4 separate regions of the Homo sapiens genome follow, and all the other regions are linked to region 4. The links come from fine-mapping of genetic effects on gene expression. A gene starts in region 4. Each other region holds a variant in brackets. All regions are shown on one strand. Distances are between the middles of the regions. Region 1 overlaps RASSF4 (Ras association domain family member 4). Region 2 has its middle 51 kb from the start of CXCL12. Region 3 overlaps RASSF4 (Ras association domain family member 4). Region 4 holds the start of RASSF4 (Ras association domain family member 4).

What was found.
Region 1: its variant is fine-mapped to the expression of RASSF4 in whole blood (INTERVAL, PIP above 0.99).
Region 2: its variant is fine-mapped to the expression of RASSF4 in non-classical monocytes (Schmiedel 2018, PIP 0.94).
Region 3: its variant is fine-mapped to the expression of RASSF4 in skeletal muscle (GTEx, PIP above 0.99).

Annotation. Positions count from the first base shown.
Region 1 is chr10:44,986,497-44,991,783 of GRCh38, reverse strand. It overlaps RASSF4 (Ras association domain family member 4), which reads right to left. Exons shown (of 11, transcript NM_032023.4): 7 at 2,409-2,510; 8 at 2,063-2,114; 9 at 715-836. Among named protein-coding and RNA genes, the nearest start is that of DEPP1, 10 kb to the right of the region's middle. RefSeq lists enhancers at 1-61, 91-782. The variant A/G (reference allele first, on the strand shown) is at 2,924.
Region 2 is chr10:44,433,739-44,439,025 of GRCh38, reverse strand. No RefSeq gene overlaps it. Among named protein-coding and RNA genes, the nearest start is that of CXCL12, 51 kb to the right of the region's middle. The variant G/T (reference allele first, on the strand shown) is at 2,802.
Region 3 is chr10:44,980,178-44,985,464 of GRCh38, reverse strand. It overlaps RASSF4 (Ras association domain family member 4), which reads right to left. Exons shown (of 11, transcript NM_032023.4): 4 at 2,802-2,944; 5 at 1,352-1,443; 6 at 495-652. Among named protein-coding and RNA genes, the nearest start is that of DEPP1, 4.0 kb to the right of the region's middle. RefSeq lists enhancers at 1,063-1,563, 4,837-4,906, 4,355-5,056, 5,057-5,287. The variant T/C (reference allele first, on the strand shown) is at 2,821.
Region 4 is chr10:44,957,249-44,962,535 of GRCh38, reverse strand. It overlaps RASSF4 (Ras association domain family member 4), which reads right to left and starts at 2,734. Exons shown (of 11, transcript NM_032023.4): 1 at 2,670-2,734. TMEM72-AS1 (TMEM72 antisense RNA 1) reads left to right here and starts at 2,847. Exons shown (of 8, transcript NR_033842.1): 1 at 2,847-2,944. RefSeq lists a silencer at 2,764-2,983 and an enhancer at 2,761-3,055.

The sequences.
Region 1 (5,287 bases), 29 kb before region 4:
CGCTTTTCCCACCCCACCCCCACACTGCTGTGTTGTGTACAGATGCCAGGACGGGAGCCTATTACTATCTCAAAGGCAACTGTTATCCCTGGGAGGAAATATTAAACTGAATATTAGGAAGAGCATTCAGTACAGCAGCATTGTCACATTGGGTGCCCTCTGGGCTAGGGGGTAGGGAGGTGGGAGCACCATTGTTTCTAACAATGGAATGCAATTGCAGCAGCCTGAGGGATACGGGGTCACTAGGCCTCCTACTTGAGGTTCAAACCCTGTAAGCATCTTCTATGCAGAGGAGTTTGGAAATGCACTCACTGTCTGGTCAGAACTCAGGCTGTTGGTAAGACTTAAATATCTCCCTGTTTTCCACAGGTGCGAGGTAGGGCCTAGTTAAAAAGCCTTTGCATAGGTCTCTCACATAATGACAACAAAATACATTCCAATGAAGGAAAAGACTTTACTTCCCTAGAGGAAAAGGACAGGCCATGGTTTTATAGGACCCAAATTCTTCTTTCCCCTAAGCTGCTGGTGCTGGCGGTCACTGATGGGAGAGGGAGGGCTGGCGCCTCCCTGTGCTAGGCTGGGAGCCCTTTGGGAGAGTGTGGAGCTCCTGGAGACATCAACTGACAGGGCTCTGGCCAGGAGTCCTTGGGAGGCCCCGTCACCCAAGAACCCCTCACCCTAGAGCAGGCCTCCCCAGCCTTGGCCCCCACTCACTTCATGGGGGACTTCCACGCCCAAGTCAGCTTCCATCAGGAAGATCCTGGCGATCTTCTCACATGGCCCATGCAGGATTCTGGAAATCAGCGGGTACTCGCAGTCTTTTAATTTTGTCCGCTCTGAAAAAGAAGGTGGTTTACAAAAATCACGGGAGATTAGGATCACCTCTGTCTGTTCCAGATTAGGAACTGATAGAAAATGTGCGTCTAGGGGCGCAGGGAACCCTAAGAACACAGACCTCGCTAACAGCGCTGCCCTGAGAGATTCCTGCTCATGCAGAAGGGAGGCAGAACAGGGCCCCCAGATCTGCCACTTTGGCATAAGGATTAAGTGGAGCGGCTGGCAATTGAGAAGAAGAAGATACAAGTGAGGCTCTTTGCCCTCCCCTATTTGCCAAAAAGCAGGACATAAATTTGTCAAGGTGTGCCCCCGTCCCTCTCTAGGCAATGATGGAGTTAATCACCAGAGACAACCCGAGCCCCTCCTCAGCCTGGAGAGGGCACCAGAGGAACCTGCACAGCACGTCCCGCTGAAGCCCTTCCCTTCCCGCAGCTCCCCGTGCGGTGACCTTCCCACCCTTCGCCTCCCCAGAAACTCAGGCCCTTCTCCTCTGTCTTGTCACTTCTCTAAAAACTTACTGCTCTTTTGTGAATATGCTATTTAAGCCCAAATTCTGACCATTCATCCCTGGATATTCCAAAGGGCATGCATGATGCAAGTGTTAACAAACTTCTGTTTGTTCTTCTCCTTAATCTGTCTTTTGTTAATCTAAATACAGGGCCCCAGCCAGTGAACCTAAATGGGTAGAAAGAGAAGATAATTTTCCTCCCCTACAGTGTCATTCAGCAAAGGTGCAGCTTGAAGAGAAACAAGATCTGAGGGGTGGGAGAAAGGAAAGCTGAGACGGGAGGGCCAGGGCCTGATGCACTGCGACACGCACCCCACCCTTCCTGACTCGGCGCCAAGGAGCTAGGTACCCACCCATCCATTTCTCTGGAAGAGGCGGAGAGGGAGGCTTCCTATAGCTTGGTGGGATTCTCCTTCAGAATCCTGAAAGAATTAAACTTAATGTACTGAGCGACCTAGAAAATCCAAGGACATTTTAATGTGCTTTAAATTCGAAGCCAAAAGTATGTTTTCTTTTCCTCAAGGCTTCCATAGTGTGCCTGGGTTTGGGTGGGGGAGAAATGTTCATGCTGGGAGGCACAGTGTGCCCTAGCCCACTAGGCAAGCCAGCACGGAGCCCATCTGGAAGGGAGTACAGTCAGTGGTTGGTGGGGAGGGGGCTTGCTGAACAGGTAGAGACCTTTTGCTTTTACGATCCAGAAGTGGGGCAGGTACTTACCCCCAGACTCGTGAACGATGTAGAGTGCGAACTCACTGGGGCCATCTTCCACCTGCACAGGCAGTCACAGGAAGTCAGATCACGGTGCTTGGAGATGGGAGAGAACTGAGAGGGTCCCCTGACAGTAACTACACCCCCAGTAACACACACGCAAGTTGCAAGGAACCTGTCCTCTCCCAACCTCCTCTTGCTTGAAATCCGAGAAACCAAAGCTCAGCAGAGGGACCCTTGCTAGACCTTCTGCCCAGGCAGCTTCTGCCACGGGCAGCTTTCCCCAGAACCCCACCCCCAACAGAATAGCAGACCACTGGCATCCTGGGGCAAGGCTGCTCCTGACCAGGCTTACCCTAAATTTGTTCAGCAGCAGGGTGAGCACCTGCAGGGTTGTCATGGTGCTGTTGACCCTCACATTGGTCACGGATCCATAGGCTGGAGTAAACACGGAGGTCTGTACCAGGAAGGGAGAGAAGTTCAGGTCAGGCCCAGAGGGGACAAGGGACTGACATCACAACGGTGAACAGACCAAGGCAGCAGGTGACGCTGAGATCTGGGAACACCTGCACCTGTCCATTCACGCTGATGCACACATAAGCTGTTCCCAGACCTGGGAGACACTCCGGGAAGCTGTAGTAGTGCACTCCTTCCAGAGGCCTAAGGAAGATGTCTACACACCCAGAAGGGCCAGCTCTCTGGACCCGAGGAACCAGGGCCATGGAAGTCATTCACAAGGGTGGGGGAATCAGTCTCTCCATCACTCTTTCTATTGATTAAGTCACCAGTTGTCTGTTGATTCTAAGGCTGAAAGTTACCCAATCTGTCTCCTCCTCTTCATTCTCCCAGCAGTGCCTAGTAGAGGCACTG[A/G]TCACACCATATCAGCTTCCCAGCTTGTTCCCTTCTGGTCTCAGTCCCTCTAATCCGTAGTCTGCACCGCTGCCTACAGGAACGGACTTCTAAAACCCTTGCACCTCCAAGTGACGTCTAGCCCAGCTGCATCCATACAGTCTCGGCTCCCTTCCCTACCCTGCTCCATACCATCTGAATCAGAGTCTGCGTCTGTAGAACACAAGGCGAAGCGATCTGTGCAGTTCAATGTGAGAAGCACTGTTTGAAAGCGCGGGTCTAAAAGTATCTGAAGGCTTCCTGGGGACTGTGCAATAACATCTGTAGTTCTTCTCATTGTCTCGCACGTATGACACTATGGTTGCCTAACAAGCACCATGTGCTCCAGTCACAGAGCTTCTTCACAATTTGGCTGGGGGGTGGGGGGACACATTATATTTTTGCAGGTATCTTGCCTTTGCCTAAGAGACACCATATATGAAATCAACCAGGACTCTGCCTGACACATAATAGGTCCGTCCTCAATAAACCCTAGCTGTGTATTGAACCCGCTAAGATTTTACATACAATCATTGATTTAATATTCATAACAACCCTTTGAGGCAGCTATAACTAGTCCCCTTTTCTTAGAAAGGAATCAGAGGCTTTAGGAGGTTAACCAGCTTGTTCAGAGTTACCCACCTAGAAAAGACAGAGCCCTGACTCAAAGGATTCCATGATTCCTGAAAACCTACATGTTACCCCCCTGGTGCTGGTGCCTCCCAGCGAATGTGACTCCTCTGCAGGTGAACCTCTCCTTGCTTTTCAAACTCAAGTTTAGATTCGCATATTCCTCCTCTGAGATCCTAGCTCTGTTTTCCCAAGGAGGTAGCTAAGGCTCAGAGAGCTCAAGGACCTATTCAGTATCCCCGCTCTGATAAGTCCAGGCACACCTGGGAGCCATTGTGAGTTCAGGTCCAGACCATCACAATGAAGCGAATATCTCAATAAAGTGAGTCACACAAATGTTTTGGTTTCCCAGGGCATATACAAGATATGTTTATACTATACTGTAGTTTCTTAAGGGTGAGACAGTACTACATCTAAAAAATATGCATGCCTTAATTAAAACTACTTTATTGCTAAAAAATCTGACACAGAGACACAAAGTGAGCACATAGTGTTGGAAAACGGCACCGATAGACTTGTTCAACACAAGGTTGCCACACACCTTCAATTTGCAGAAACCGCAGGTGCAGCAAAAAAAAAAAAAAAAGTGCACATTTTTGCAAATGGAAGGTTGCTGAACAGCAACCTTCCATTTGCAAAAATCTGCAAGGTACAGTAACAAGAAGCACAATAAAATGAAGCACGCTGTGCCAGAGTCAGACTCAACCTCGACCTGCTTCCCCCAGCTCGATTCTAGTTGAGGTGCAGAATGACTGAGTTATACAGAAAGCCAGGATTAGGATTAGGCTTTCTTGTCCAAAGAAATATGGAAGAGAGGGCCAGGTGCAGTGGCTTACGCCTGTAATCCCAGCACTTTGGTAGGCAAAGGCGGGCGGATCACGAGGTCAGGAGTTCAAGACCAGTCTGGCCAATATGGTGAAACCCTGTCTCTACAAAAAATACAAAAATTAGCCAGGCATCGTGGTGCGCACCTGTAGTCCCAGCTACTCAGGAAGCAGAAGAATCGCTTGAACCTAGGAGGTGGAGGTTGCAGTGAGCCCAGATCGTGCCACTGCACTCCAGCCTGGCTACAGAGTGAGACTCCATCTCAAATAAAAAAAGAAACATGAAACAGAGGAGTTAGGCTATTTCAAAGGGACAAAAAGTCTTGTTAACAAGACACTGTGTTTCTTCTGCACGAAGCCTTTTCTCAAGATGATACCAACCAACTCCAAGTAGGAACAAAGGCCCCCTGGCTACTTTCTTATCTCTAACCACAAATGGTTTCTCTCTAACAGAACGCATTTGAATCCAATAGGTCAGGCAGTAGAAACAGCTACAAAGTTTCACCCTGTCTGGAAATAAAACCAACATTTCTGGGAATCAGAACAGTTTTGGAAAATGACTGAGTGAAGTAATGGTGCACAGTTCTAAGAAACAAAACCTGGAACTATCTCAGAAATTCAATGCTAGGAATTATTTATTTTTTCAATTGTTGCCTCTGACTCAAGGAATCTGTCCCCTCATTTCTAAGGACATTAGTTCTGTATGGATGTTGAGCGTGGTAAGAAAGGGCTTTTTGCATAGTGCTTTTCTTTGGGACTTCCCTTACCCAGGAGGTGGGGGAGCTACTGTCCCAAATGCTTAAGACACTATTCTGTGTCCTTGAAAGCAGTACTTTTTTCTGGAAGAATGGATTCACATTGCAAGGGCAAATCTGTCACTAGGAGGAAAAGC
Region 2 (5,287 bases), 520 kb after region 4:
TCACCTGCACACCCCACCCTAGACAGACACCTTCCCTAAAGCCCACCCTCCCCCAGAGCCTACAGTCTCAGAGAGCCAGTGCTGGGCCCTGGGAACTTCTGGGCACCCCGATTATGTGTGTGTGTGTGTGTGTGTGTGTGTGTGTGTGTGTGTGTGTCACATGCATTGAGGGTTGAAGGAAGTTGACTAAGGAAAGAAAACAACTAGTCACAAATAAAAGAGGAATTTCCCAACTGAAGAAACATGTCCCTGAAGTGAGTGTGCTTTCAGTTCATCATGTCAATGCAGCACTTTTCTTCTGCTTCATTTGCAGAAAAGAAACTGCAACTTGGAAGGAGAAAAGGCAAAATGTATTTTTGTGCATTCAGCAGAAATAGCCAGGCCAAGCAGCCGGACACTTTTAGGTGACACAGATGAACCCTGCAGGGCGCTGACGTCAGGCCCCCTCAACCGAAGACTCATTCCAGGGAAGGTTGGGCCAGACCCACAAGCACCCTAAGGGCTGCACCAAAGTGAACCTGAAAATGCAAAGTACTAATTCCTGAATGTTGTAAGACATTGTTCTCTCAAAATATAAAAACAAGAAGTAAAACTTCTTGTCTGAAAATAATGCTGACAAAGCAACAAGTTCTCCCAATCTGAATGCCTCATCCTCTCACCAAAGTGACATGTGAGTGATTCTGTGGGGAAAAAAAAAAGGCATTGGAATATTGCAGAGCATGAAAGGCCACACAGCAGGGGAGCAGCTCCTAGAACATATTATATTTCAGGGGCATCTGCTTCCTGTGTTTTTGATTACATTAAAGTATTTCATTTTCTTCCCCAAGACATCCCAAATGCCTTGTGTGCCAAAACTCCTCAAGGGGCTATGCGTGTTTGGTAATGAGTTAAGTCCATGACAATCCCAGAAAGAATCATGGACTGGGGCAGAGCCCTGGGGCGCAGGGGTACCAGGCCAGGTTCTGGCCCCAGAGCTCACAGGACTTCACGGGGCATCAGAGCAAGTTCTCCAGGGAAGGCTGCCCTGTGGCCACTCCCATTCTTGGTGCCGGGACATGCTGGCCTGGTTTCCTGCTCATCACTTTACTTCAGCACTTACCAAAAGGTCTCATAAATGGTGGCTTACATCTAAAACTAGTGTGTAAGCCAGCAGTTAAAATTTTCTTTTCATATGAAGACAATGTAAGGATGCAGGAAAAACAGTTTATGGGTTCTCTCTATCTCTCGGCAGAATGTCATTTTTATCTTATATATATATTACCTGCAACCATGTATAAGCATTCTTTTATTAATTCCATGTTAACAGAGAGATTTTCCTTCTGGCTACAGTATTCCCAGCCTTGATGCAGAAGGCCAGCGGTGGGCCATGTCATGAAGCTGGGAGGAACCCCCAGGGCCCATCAGCTCCTCCAGTACCAGCCAGGCCCTGGGTTTAGGTGATAAATAAGTCACATGAGGTCCCTGCCCGGAAGTTTATATTTCCAGAAGGAGAAACAGACAATAAATAAGTGAATAAATTGACCATTTCAGGTCCTGATAAATAATATGAATGGAAGGAAGCTTGCTGTGTTCAGGGAGCAGGAGAGGACATGGCCAGGGACACCAGGTCCGGAGGTGTGGGAAGGCCTCTCTGAGGGAACGTACTTGAGCGATGTGAGGGAGACACCCTGAGAAGAGCCTGGAAGGCTGTCCAGGAAGGAGTGGAGTCAATGCAAAGGTCCTGGAGTGAGAAAAAACAGCTTCATGTTATAGGAATCTCACAGTCAGTGTAGCTGGAACAGGGCAAGTGAAGGCATGGCAGGAGGTGGTCAGGGCCTTACAGGCCACGGTGTTGGGATTGGATTTTCTTCTGGAAGGGACAGGAAACTACAGGTGGTTTGGAGTAGAAGCACATGGAGATCATAACCCCAAGCACTATGGGAAGTAGGGTAGGCAGCAGTAGGAGCTCCTGGGTGGGAAGGCCAAACAGGAAGATGGCAGTGCCCTCCGTGAGATGCGGACCCTGTCTAGGTAGAACAGGGCTGTGGGGATGGGGCAGTTCTGGGGTAGGAACCAACATTTTGGTATTAGACATGCCACTTCTGCAGATGTTCCTTTAGAGAGGAGCAGAGAAGTGGGATGGTGGTTGCAGGAGGGATGCGGAGTCAAGATGACCCTGAGAAGACCTGCACGGGGGCCATCCAGGAAGGAGTAGGGTCAGGAACAAGGTCCTGAGGCAGGAAACAAGCTTCATATTCCTATTTTTAAAGACCAAGCTTTCACTGCAAGCTGATGTGCTGTTGGAAAGATGCAGTGGCAAGGGAAAACCTGCTGATGCTGGTGATAGAAGTGATTGTTGCAGGAGCAGTCAGAGGTCTACACTCGAACCTTAAGGAGCAGGACTCTACTTTATGCCACTTTATTTCTCCAGCATGAACAGAGTGCTGAGGAAGCAAGAGCCAGCACATGAGACCCAGCCTAAGGGTCCCTGGAGAGCTTCCTGGGAGAGGTAAAATCATGCTGAGAAGGGCAGGCCCAGCAGCAGCTTGCCAGTGTCAGGAGGGAAAAGATGCTCCAGGCAAAGACAGCTCATGTTCAAAGGCCAATGCACATGAGAAAGAGCTGGGCATGGTTGGCCACAGGTGCACAAGGATGCTGGGAGCTGAGGTGGAGGGGAGGGGAGGACCAAGTGAGGCTTGCAGGCTGTACCAGCAGGTCGGATTTTATCACTAGACAGATCACCCTAGCAGCAGCAGGGATTACCTCTGACTTGAGAGGCAGGGGACAGGGGTAAGGCAAACACTGGTGGGAGGGATGGCCTT[G/T]GAGAGGCAGCGCCAGGTATCCACAGGTGAGGGTGGGCCAGGAGACAAGAGGGCACCAAGAGCAGATTAACTGCACTCAGAGGCAGCTTCAACCAGCTGGATAAGTAGGGAAGATACAGCAAAGGATGGGCCTGGGGTTTGGGTGACAGTGGTGGATGAGGCTACTCATTGAGAAAGGGCACTTCATGGGAAGGATGATGGGGCTGAGGGTGCCAAGGCAGCAGTCAGATCCCTGAGCACACTAGCCCGGAGGCCACAGATGCAGGGGAAGAACAAGTGGCTAGGACAGGGATGGAGCCTTCCATCCCAGGGCCTCTGCAGGGAATTGGCAGTCTGCTGCCTCTTCTCTGGTATATAAAGGCAGGTGAGATATGTGGATTCCCGTTTCTCCCTCAAGAACCATGAAAATCCTATGAATGTTATTTGAGAGACATTGCATTTTCTTCCTAGAAAGTGGGGACCCCAGCTATGCCTTGGAAAGATCTCTCTCACTGCTAAGGGAAGGTGCCCTGGAGGAGGGAGCCTGGGGACGAGGGGTACACAGGCAGGTGGTCATTAAAATAATGCAGGAAGGAAGCCATGAGGCTAAACCAGGCAGAGGGCAGGAGGGCAGCAAGGAGGGAAAGAGCTCTCGCTGTGGCAGAGGATGCATGATCAGGATTTGGTGAAAAGTGAGGCAAGGGGAAGAGGGAAGAGCCAGATTCTAACGTTTAGGTTCTGGCGGCCAAGGCATGATAGTGCCATTGAAATGTGAGTTCAATATCCCTGCAGCTACCGGAACCAGGGTGCAGAGCAAAGCAGAAGCCAAGTGAAGTTGATGAGCAAGCAGATCTGGACAGAAGCTGGTGTGTCCAGTCTAGTCCCAGCTTGTCAAGGACATGCATCACCACTGCTTCTCTCAGTCCACAGAGGTTCTCACCTCGGATCCATCTATGCTTTGGGGACACTGGACAGTGACCCGAGTGGAAAAAGAAACATCTCTTTTGACTCCTCGAGCTGATTCCCCACTTGGGGGTAGGAAGGTGAAATACCTGAGACTTTGCAACAAGCGAGGCTGAGGCCACAGGAGGCTGAGGCTGAAAGCCCCGGCCTTCAGGGCTACTTTAGAGGAGTGAAGAGCAAATGTGTCTGTTGGTCCCAAAGAGCAGAGGTCCCTGGGGGCCCTGCCAGTGATGTGGGCAGAGAACAGGTGGCGTGGAGCTCCTGTCTCTGCCTCTGTCTTAGTTGGCTCAAAGTCCCAAAGAACTGGAGACCCTGGTCAGGAAAACTGCATTATCAGGGTACCCACTTCCCCTTCTCCTGCACCTCCCCAGCCTAAGACTCTACAGAAGAAAGGACAGATGATCAGAACCCTGGAAAAATGGCAGATAGGAGGCAGGACTAACTTGCAGCTCCCACTCGGTTGGACAGAGCAGTGTATGGAGACTCACATCGTGAACTTTTGCTCCAAGAACTACCATAGCAACATACCCGGAAAGCGGAGAGAATCCACAGACCCTCTGAAGGAAGTGGATTGCTGCTGCAGGTGCCCAGAGACAGCCAAAAAACCCTGAAGACAAAGGACATAATCTCTTCAGAGCTCTAGGGCCCTGCCCACCACCTGATCCTCCCTATACTATGGCAGCTAATGCACTCTTGAAATTGTCACCTCCTGGCTGGAAGCCAACCAACACAAAAATGGTGCAATAAACAAAACTACAACCAAGGACCCTTGCAGAGTCCTCTTCACTCCCCTGCTACGTCCACTGAAGCAAGTGCTGGTATCCACAACTGAGAGACCTGGAGACAGTTCAGTTCACATTATAGGACTCAGTGCAGACCCTCCCCAATACCAGACCAGAGACTGGTAGCTCCATTAGGTGGCTAGATCCTAAGGAGAAACCAAAATCACTCCAGTTAAGCTCTCAGGAAGCCCTATCCCTAGGGTAAAGGGGAGAGCACCACATCCAAGGAGCACCCCATGGGACAAAAAAAAAATATGAACAGCAGCCCTTGAGCCCCAGATCTTCCTTCTGAAATAGCCTACCCAAATAAGAAAGAGTCAGAAGAACAATTCTGGTAATATGACAAAACAAGGTTCTTTAACATGCCCAAAAGATCACACTAGCTCACCAGCAACAGAGCCAAACCAAGGAGAAATCTCTGAATTGCCAGAAAAAGAATTCAGAAAGTCAATTATTAAGCTATTCAAGGAGGCACCAGAGAAATGTGAAGTCCAACTTTAATGAAATTTAAACAAAAACAAAAACAAACAAAACTTATACAAGCTACAAAGGGAAAAATCTTAAGTGAAATAGAAAGCATAAATAAAAAACAATCACAACTTCTACAAATGAAGGACACACTTAGAGAAATGCAAAATACATTGGAAAGTCTCAGCAATAAAATTAAGCAAGCACAAGACAGAACTTCACAGTTCAAAGGCAAGGCTTTTGAAATAACTCAATCCAACAAAGACAAAGGAAAAGAATCTTAAAAGATGAACA
Region 3 (5,287 bases), 23 kb before region 4:
TGTAATTTGGGGAAAGAAAGCTTTTCCTGAGGTCAGTACAATGCATCCTTGGACAAAAGGCTGTGTGCTGGGAATCTGGGGTCGTCCAGGTTCTCTGGGGCACAGACACATGTGCCCTGGGCACACCCCTGCTTAATTATTCGGTGAGAGTGATGGCTGGATACACAGTGTTCCCAGGGATCAACCAATCGAGTTCGGGGGGAAGCCTCCTAGAAAGCGCCCTCATTGAAGACACGGTCAGCGTTACTGTCTGCCCAGGGCATCCCCAGCTTACTTGCCAGAATTCTGTGTGACTTGTGAGGATGCACTGACAGTGAGCATGTGCTGGAAAATGCTTAGGTCATAAACGGGGCTGTTATGTGGATGCAACCTGGTTTTTCCTCCTGAGGGCACAGGAATGCCAGCAGCCCCCACACAGGTCATGGTGCTTGCTGTGCCTGTGCTCAGGCCTGGCTCCCCATGCGCCCAGGGGAGAGGCCAGGCTGGGGCATCACCTTATGATTGTAGAAGTGGCCGTTGATAGAGAACCGGTGTCGCCGGATGCGCTGGGCCTCACCGGGGGCGCGGCACTTGGGCCTCCTCTGGCTCATGCAACTGGCGTCGCTCTTGGTCCGCATCAGCTGGGGGGCCTCCTCTGCCTCCTCCAGGGGCCCTGCATGAGAAATGGGTGAGAGAATGGCAGGGTGGGTGATGCTGACAGAGCAACTGCCTGCTGTCGGGAGATCTGGCACCCTAGAGCCCTGTGGTCACGTGCACTGGGGCAGATGGGGACGTGAGGGCCATTCCTGGACTGGAGGCTGGATATTCCCAGCTTGCAGATAGGAAGGTGAGACCCAGACAGGGTAACCTGGGTCACAATGTCACATGGCCATACCCCTCTTGGTCTCTGTCTTAGGGTGCCCATGGAGGTCTTTGGTGGCCCCAGCCCTGTCTTCTGAGCCCCTGCTCTGAAACAGGCCCTTCACTGAGGGCTAAAGGAAGGGGAATAAAAAGGATGAGTGAGCAGGTACAGAGGGTGAGGACGAGGTCGCAGAGGGAGGTGAGGGGCCAGGAGAGCGCAGTGCCTTCTGTGGATGCTCCTGTTTCCCATAGCACACACAGGGCGGGGGACTCAGGCCACCCCCACACTGTCACTGTCACCTCCCAAGCCTCTGCTCACTTTTCCATAAAAAGGAGCGAGAATGAGGGCAGAGCACCTCACAGGCAGGCACCTGGGTAGGGGTCCAGCAGGTGAAGCCCCTCGTTGGCTGGGGCACAAAGCTGTCCTTCGGAGATTGTGGTTGTGAGCCAAGCCCCTCTGCTCCTACCCCGGATGAGGCAGGGGTCTGGGCAGCTTGCGGGCTCCGCTTACCCGAGCTGTCTGTGGAACTCTCAGCCTTGTGCACTGGCTGAATGCTTGGCCCCTGGGCTGTGATGTTCCCGTTCTGGGGCGATGGCTCCTTTCTGAAAACAGACAACTGCAGGGCTGAGATGGCTGCCGGCAGAGAAAGGGAGCTCAGGCCAAGGAGAAGAGACCAGCAGCCCCTGGGGTAGGACACAGGCGGGAAGCAAGGCAGGCTGAGGTGAGGCCTGGATTTCAAACCAAGAGAGTCAGTCTGAAACAATAAAAGAAAAGTAGAGGCCTCCCCCCAGCATCTGCTGGACGGAGAGTGAGCCTGGCCCTGCAGACCTGAGGGCTTGTGCTGGGCTGCATCGCACAGACACACGGACACATGAACATAGTCAGGGCCTGCGCATTCCTAGACACCAGGCTTAGCCAGGCCAGCAGCTGTGTGCCAAACAGGCTCGCTGGGCTTCCCGAAGGCCTAGTGGGGTGTCAGGCAGGGGCCACCTAGAAGGGCCCAACCTCCAGGCCTCTTGGCAGGATGAGCCCCAGGCCAGGGTAGCTAGTGCTGGGCTGGAGAAGGAGTGGGTATGATGGGGCACAGCCCTGTAGCCCAGGGGACCTGGGGAAGAGAAGACAGATGGGATCCTGGAGAATACACGGGCACAGCCGCGACTGCTGTCTGTGAGTGCTTTACCTCGAAGAGGGGCACATGTGAGTCACACTTGCAGCCTTCCTAAGGAGTCTGACTTTATGCTCTAATTCTGTGTGCCTCAGAATTCGCTGAGTGACTGGGGACACCTAGGTATGTGCTGGGGCTGTCAGGGTGGTGGGTGCTGTCACAGCATGGGTTTCATATGAAATCTGAAGGGGGCAAAGCTCTGAATGTGTGCCCTCTACAGGAGTTACTACTGCAGAAGCAGGCAAGGCCCAGCTACTAACTGCGTCTTTTGGGAGTGGGCCGAGGAGGAGATAAATGTGCATTGAATGGTAAGGCAGGCAGGAGACCATTTCCTCCTGACAGAAACATTATTCTGATATTAAACAAATGTAATGTGAAATTCTGATAAATTTATTTTTAAAATTTTGACATTAAAATGAAAACAGAGTAGTAAGAGGCTAAATTCGTGTGAATTTTAAAGATAGAACAAGAGATGGCGAGACATGTTCGGCTTGCATAGGTGTTGGGAGCCCCCCTGGCTGTAGTCGTCCCTTCTTGCCAGCAAGGTGGCTTGCAGGAAGGTTTGAGAAACAGAAATAGAGGTCATGGGAGCCTGGAATGTTCTCCAGGAAGGAGGGAGAGGCCACCCTGGGCGAGGCTGTGGACTGAGGCAGTCACAGGGCATGGGGATGAGGCTGGGTCACCCTCCTGTGCCAGTGTCCCATAAGGGAACAGGGCTCCCACCCTGAGGCTCGGGATATCCCCAACCCGGGAGCTCAGGCTGAGCAGGTGTCACAGAAGCCACCGGGTACTCACAGAGGGCAGCTAGGCCGTC[T/C]GGGCATCCATGAGGTGGAGGGGAGGTGCACCTGCTCCCGGTCATCCTGCATCTGCAGCCGGATGGGCCGCCTCAGCCCCCAGGCAATGTTGAGGAGCCCCTCGATGATCAGAGTCCCTTCTTCCTGTGGGGGTCCACACATCAGCCCTTCCCCCAGAGCAGCTGCCTACCTTCCCTGTGCCCCCTAGGGATGGGATGCTCTGAACACTCAGGCCTTGCACATCCCTCCTCCTGAGTGGCCCCATCCCCTCAGGAAGGACCATCAGCCACTACGTGCCCTGGGGCGTGTGACCAGGCCCTGTGGGAGGGAGCCTGAGATGTGCTCAGCTCATGCCTGGCCAGGGGCACAGCGCAGAACACAGTGGCTGAGTCAGGTGTCCCACAGGAAGCCAGCTGCTGGCCGGCAGGCACGTCCACACCGCGGTGAAGAAGTGGTTCCAGGGACGCACAGCCTGTCTGCTCATGCCAAGCAGGGGACCTCTCTGCCCACACTGCACCTGGGAGGGGGTCCTGCGCCACCAGGTCCTATGGCCACCAGGCCCGGCAGGGTCCCACACCCACCAGAGGAGAAGTGGGCACTCTCTGTCCTAGCTGTGTCTCAGCCTCACCCTTCTCCCGGTGCCTTCCAACAGCAGCAGCGTCCACTTGCCAGGGCTGACAAAGGGTCTTGCTTTTCTCACCACTGCTTAGACATCACTAGCCCTATATCCCATACCAGAATTTCTACAACAGCCTTCATCCCATGTCCCCAACCTCCCTCGGTTTCCCTAGGTCTGCAGGTGACATGGCTTCTCTCCTGCTGCCAACCTGGGGCCCTAATCAACAGAGTCCTCTGCACGCACCTTGCTAGTAGTGCTGGTTGGCACCCCTTGGGCCCTTGATTCAGTGCCTCTGACCTATTCCAGGCCTCTGTCTCTGCGAGACCACCCCAGGCCTCTGTGCCAATCCCGGTCACTCTGTGTGTAAGCCTGGCCAAGCTGAGTCATTTGCCAGAATACTTGCCAGCAACCTCAGCTGCCCTCTACCCAGAGCCGCAGTCTCGAAACTACACACTCCTAATGTGCTCTGACACTAGTCTTCCCACAATTAACTTTGAATATCATTCTCTCATTGCCATCTCAACCAACATTTAATTTTATTATTTATGTTTTATTGTGATAAGGACATTTAACATAAGAACTACCCTCTAAACAAACTGTTCAGTGCACAATACTGTATTGTTCACTGTAGGCACAACGTTGTCCAGCCCATATCCAGGACTTACTCATCTTGCATAGCTGAAACATTATATCAGCTGCACAGCAACTCTCCACTTCCTCCTCCCCTGCCCCAGTCCCTGCAACCACCATTTTCACTCTCTGCCTCTATGAGCCTATTTTAGATTCCTTATATAAGGGAATCATGCAGTATTTCTGACCCATATTTTAGATTCACAAATCCCATTTCTCTCTCCTCGTTGGCACTAAAAGCCCTGTGAGAACAGGGACGCCATGGAAACTTCTTTGTATCCCTGGCAGCACTCAGGAAGACCCTGCACAATGTGGATTTCATGGTAACTTAGAAATGGGGTTTCTAGGTTCAAACATCCTGCCATCCACAGAGAAAATAGTGTATCCAAAGGTTATCAAATATACACACAGCTTCCAGATATGACCTTGCACTATCTGCTAAAAAGGAAAACAAACAAGCAGAAACCAGAGCTGTTTTTGATACTCACTGGTGCTCTACAAGCACAGATGTGTCACTGAGCTTCCTATGAAGGAGAGGCCAGCATGGATCTATGGAGTTCAAAGGTCTATGGGGGGTTCTGTTCTTGCCTCTTGGTCTCGGGTGCCTCTCAGTGGAGAGAGCTTGTGGGGATGGCTCACTCATGGAGACCCACTGCCCTCCAGCCCCACCCTGGACGCCAGGCAGAGGAAGATGGAGCAGACACAGCCCTGGCCACGAGGGGCTCGGGCTTGGACGCAGAAGGAGATGCAATGGAGCTTCTTGGAGGAGGTGCTTGTGCACTGCACCCTGGAAGACGAGTGAAGGGGGACAGGGAGGAAAGCTGAGCAGGTGGCCCTGACCTCAGGACCTGCCTGGACAAGGTCGGGGGCTTGGCTGTACTGGGGACAGGCTGGCTCTCCATGACTCAGGCCAGACATGCCTACACAGGTGATGTGTGTGCCCCCAGCATAGCCGCCCACTGTTCACCCTCCCCCAGCTTGGCCGCATCTGAATGGAGGGAAAGCCCCGTCAGCCAGCAGCGAATTCTCCGCCTCCCTCCCTCTTTTGGTCTCTTGACTAATCTGCTCATTGCTAATAAATTCAAAGAAGAGCCAGCGAACTAGACAAAGGGTCTACAAAAGATATAAGAGCTTGGGCAAGGTGAGAAGTGCCATGTGCCACTGAAATCCTGGTCACTGTCTCAGGCACTCCCTGCCCCGATGCCTTTGTGCACATGGAGTTCCCACCTAGAATTCAA
Region 4 (5,287 bases):
CCCCAGGCCTGTGTGCCACATGTCACTGCTGGGGACATAAGGGCCCTGTGAGACAAAAGGGTCCCAGAATCTTTTGGGTCATAGAGTCCTTTGGAGTCTCTTGAAAGCTTAGTGCACTCTCCCCAGAAAATGCATGTATGTGCATGTTGTTGCAATCTGCATCCACGTGCAAACACACACACAATTTGCATATCACTGCAGGGAGATGAGACAGCTCTTGTCCATGTACTCCCAGATCCCCAGATCTTAGGTTTAGAATCTCTGCTGAAACCTGTCACAGCAAGAAAGAGGAGGCAGAGGAACGTTGTAGAGCCTTGCATGTGAGTTTTGCTGTGGCATTAACTTGGCCTGTGATCCTAGCGTGTTGCGCCGTCTCTTGGGCATCAGTTTAGCCAGAGCTGTTGTGGCAGCTGATAGAGAGTCTTCAGGGCTCTTCCCAGCACTGCAGCTATGGGGCTCAATGACACCCCACCCCTGCTTCCCAAGGTCAGGCAGGGCAAAGGGAGGGGGTTCCGGGCCTCTTCCTCAACAGTATATCCTAGGGCAGAAGGTGGGACAGCCAGAAAAGGAGACCCCGGGAACTACAAGTTTCTCTTTTACAAAAATAAGAAAACTGTTGAAGCTTTAGGAAGTGCAGCCACTTCTTATTTGATTTTCTTTATTTTAAAACAATTTCCCCAAACATACTCTGTGAGAGAATAACCACCTAGCCTTTGCAAGGCTCTGGGTTTAAAGCTCTGCTCTGTGACTGCCTGGCTCTGTTACCTTAAGCAAGTCCAGTTCCCTCTCTGAACCTTGGGCTCCTCATCAATTAAATAACTATAATCCTCGATGACTTCTGTGAAGACGAATGAGGAGACCTGTAAGATGGGCCTTGTGTTGGGCTCACCCATAATGAAAAGAGGCTCCCATTACTATTCTTATTGACACTGGGAGTTGGGGGCTCTGGAGAGACTGTGGAGCCCCAGAGATGGGAATGTGAGGCCTGCCTGCAGGAGTGGCCATGAATGAGGAGAGAGTCTGAGCTGACACCTGAAACCAGGCCCCAGACCCCAGGGGCCCAGGGCAGAGGGCTTTCTGGCAGATCCCCTAGTTAGGTCTCCCCTTTGAGGCTTTGCACGTCCAGAATCTGAACTCTGACACACACCCAAGTTTCGTTCATGTTCTTTGTTATCTGTCATGGTCCACTTGGTCCTGACCCAGGGCGACCCTGGACCTTGATTCTGTTCTCGACCTCCAGGCTACCCACTGGAGCTTCATGGTGGAAATACAACCCAATCTCCTGAGTTTCAGACAGACACTTTAATCTGTAGCATCAACCTTTTTGTTGTCAAATCACCAGCACTACACACTGAGAGAATTATGGCTAGAACTAATGACAACAGCCTTCACATACACTGACAAAGTGCTGAAACAGCCCATGACAATTTCCGGCCAGCATTTTTTTAACCTAAGTTTAATGAGTTTCATCTCTCCTCTTCCCTCCCTTCCTCTTTCTCCTCTGACCCTCTCCCTTCCTGTCTTCTCCCCTAACCTGCTGTCCTGGCAGAAGTAGCTAAGGAACCACACAGAGGAACAGAAGGCAGGATGGTCTACATTTACCTGTTACTTCACCAATTCACTTCTAACTTAAAAAAAAATGGTTTCTGGCAACAAATCCTGATTGACACCTTAGTACTGTGGGCAGTTAAACTACAGCAAAGCCAGCGAGGGGCTCCTCTGTGAGTGCAAAGCATAGCTTTGGAGTCTAACCTGCTTGGGTTCAAATTCCAGAAGCCCAGCCCTTATTTGCTGTGCGACCTTATTTAATTCCTATGTGAAATGGGGCTCCTGAAGCTGTCCTTACTGTGTTTTAAGAAAGTGCTGGCCCTGGCCTGGGCACTGATTCTGGTGTGAGAGGAGGCCTCCCTCCCTCCGCCGTGCCAGGTTAATGAAAACACTGAGGCATGTTTTGGAAGTGGGAAGTGCAGGATGGGACCGGAGTCAGGAGCCCAGAAGAGCAGGGCAGCAGGCAGGCTGACCTTCGGAGACTAAGGGTGAAGAGCAAGAGACTCAGGGGCACAACAAGCCCTGGGTTCAAATCCTGGCTCCATCACCAACTCATCCGGTAAAGGTGGACAATTTTATAACTCTTTAAGCCTCAGTTTTCACATCTGAAAAGGGGATAACGAAAGTAGGACTCTCACTTGCTGTGAGGAGTAAGAGGCATATCGTGTTAAAGCACTTGGCCCAGAGCAAGGCGAGCCCTCTACAGACAGCGATTGTGAGACAGACCCCCCCTGCTGCTATTATCTTGGCGTTCGATTTCCATCAGTGAAATCAGAGTTGTGCCAGAGGCCTCTAGGCTCTCTCCCCAACTCTAGGATCAGTGCTTCTAGGAAACTGGTTAAGGACAAGGTGAACAAAAAAGGTGTAGCCAGTGGCCGGGCTCATCTGTCTTGCTCAGGTTGTAGCCCCTAAATTGCTTAACAGAGGTGCCAGGCGCAGTGCCCCCTCTCAGCAATGAGCCCGAGGCCCGCAATGCGCCAGGCTGGCGGGGGAGGGACCCTGCGCGCTGCGGCCGAAGGGCACAAGTGCCCAGGCTTCAGCGTCCCTGCCTGGTGGCAGTCCTGGGTCGGAGGGGATGCTCCATGGACGCCCAAGCACTCTCCTGCTCGTTCATCACTCACCGTCCAGTCATCGCGCAGTCCAGAAGCCACTGCATGTGTCGTGTCCTCGCTTGCACCGGAGCTGCGCCCGCAGCGCCTGCTGACCCCAGGCTTCAGCTGCTCGGGGCCAGGCCCGCCCCTCGCCCCGCCCCTCGCCCCTCGCCCCGCCCCGCTCCCCGCCTCTCGCCCGGCACGGCCAAAGGTGCCGCCCCGGTCTCTCCGTCCCGCCCCGAGCACGCCCCTCACTCCGCACCGGCCAATGGCACCGCCCCGTCCGCCCCGCTCTGGGAACGCCGGTAGGTTCCGGGTGCAGGGCGGTGGCCTAGGGGCGGCGGGGAAGATTTGGGGCCTGCGACCTGCCAGGTGTCCCCAGGCCATTGTTCAGCTCGCCGCGCGCTCCCGAGTTCCCGAGGGCGCCCCGGGACGCGAGGAGAAAGCAGCCCGACTCAGCCCCGAGAGGTTCGGTGTGCGGGCAGCGGCCAGGGACTTTGCGGGGTAGCGCGGACTCCTGGACTTCCAACAAGGGCCGCTGCGCAGGCGCTGCAATCACTGCAGGCACTTGTCTGCATGCCTGGTGGGGCTTGGAGTCTGGGGAGGCTTATCAGTAAAGCCCAGAGCATTTGCTATTTATTGCTCAAGGGGCACCTTTGTACAGTCTGGCCGTTTGCTTGGCATGGCCTCTTAGAACTCCTTATTGTTTAAGAAATCCGATCTGGTGAATAAGAAGTTAGTCTTTCTCTCCCAGTCACTGCCTCCTGGACGAATATTTGCCAGCACGGAGGCAGAGAGGACAGAAAACCACAAGCCATTTGGGGAACTGGGAACAGTTCAGTGTTTCTGGGGTGTGGGGGTGTCAAGGTGGGGGATGGGGTTGATGGAAAACATTTGCAATTTCTGCTTTACCTCACGATTCCCAGCTCTGACCTCTGGACCTGTTCTCTCCCACCCCTAACATAAATCATTTTAGTTTCATTCAGTGTGCGTTTCCTAATATTTTTAGGGTCTCATGGCCATTTTAGAATCTGATATGGATCTTCTAGAAAGTGCAGGTGGCCATATGCACCAAAATCAGCCTGGGATTTGAGTCTCATGGGTCCCTGAACTTCGACTTAGAGGGGCTGTGCTAATGCTTGTATGGCTGCTGTATGACTTATGTTGGAACCCCCACCTGCAAAAAGTGACAGGACTGAAGATACCCAGTCCAGGGGCCCTCCCGTTTCTGCGTTTGCTTGAATTTTTGGAGAATGGCCCATCCTTTGACAGCTCTGAGGCTCCCTGTGGTTGGTGACTTGTCATGACACATTTGCTCTTCCACAGCCCTCATCAAAGCTGAGACAAATAATCGGGTGCTTCCAAAGGTTTTTTAAAAGTGGGTAAAATTCAATATAACTGTCAACCTCTGAGCATGAGATCCTAAGAATTTAATCACTCCTGATAGGAGAAGTAAACATAGCACCAGGGTGACATAACAGTTTCCCTGGGCTCTCCAGAACTCGAGTGTGAATCATTCTCTCTGACCTAATTAATGCTGTTCACAGGGCCATGACTGGCTCTGAGTGAGGACTGGGTTTGGGACAGCAACCCCATGTGTCCTGTGCACCCATTGTGGGCTCAGACACTATGCTAGTGCTTTACATTGGGGATCCCATGCAATTCCCCCAGCACTCCTGGGCAGTTGGTGTTACTGCTTGCATTTTTTAAAATTTCCATTTTTATTTTAAATTTAGGGGATACACGTGCGGGTTTGTTACAATTGTACATTGTGTGGTACTGAGGTTTGGGATTGATCCTGTCACCCAGATGGTGAGCATAGTACCCAATAGGAAGTTTTTCACCCCTCGCCCCGCTGTCTCCCTCCCACTTTTGAAGTCCCCAGTGTCTATTGTTTTTATCTTTATGTCTAGGTGAACCCGATATTTAGCTCTTTTGCTTGTAAGCGAGAACATGTGGTGTTTGCTTTTCTATTTCTGCATTAGTTCGCTTAGGATAATGGCATCCAGCCACATCCATCCTGCTGCAAAGGACACGATTTTATTCTCTTTTATGGCTGTGAGTGCTTGCATTTTACATCAGACACAGGTGTCCATTGTCAGCGTCCTCCCCTCAGAAGGGGAGGGTCCATTGTCAGACCCCTCAGAAGGAGGGGTCACCTTTTCTTTCAGGGTTCAGTAGAACTGGGTGTGGTCTCCAGCTCACTTATGGTGGAGGCTACAGATACTGTTGGTTGCCAGCCAATGTCCATTTCCTTCTTTGGAAAAAAGAAAGATAGGAAAGAAGGAAAAGGACAAAAAGGAAGGAAGGAAGGAAGAAAGGGAAAGAGGGAGGGAGGAAGGAAGGAAGGACGGAAGGAAGGAAGGAAAGAAGGAAAGGAGGGAAGGAAGGAAGGAAAGGAGGGAAGGAAGGAGGGAGGGAGGAAAGAGGGAATGGGGAAGAGAGGAAAGAGAGAGGGAGGGAGGGAAGGAAAGGAGAGAGAAATACCCACTTGTCTGTAGCAGCAACATGCCAGCCCCTAGTTATGGCTCATGCCCACTTGTATTTTTCATACTCTACTTACAACCCAATAGTGGGTCATGAAATTAATTTAGTTGATGATGTGACTAGTACTTCAAAAATGCAAGGGAAAATACCAGTGTACAGCA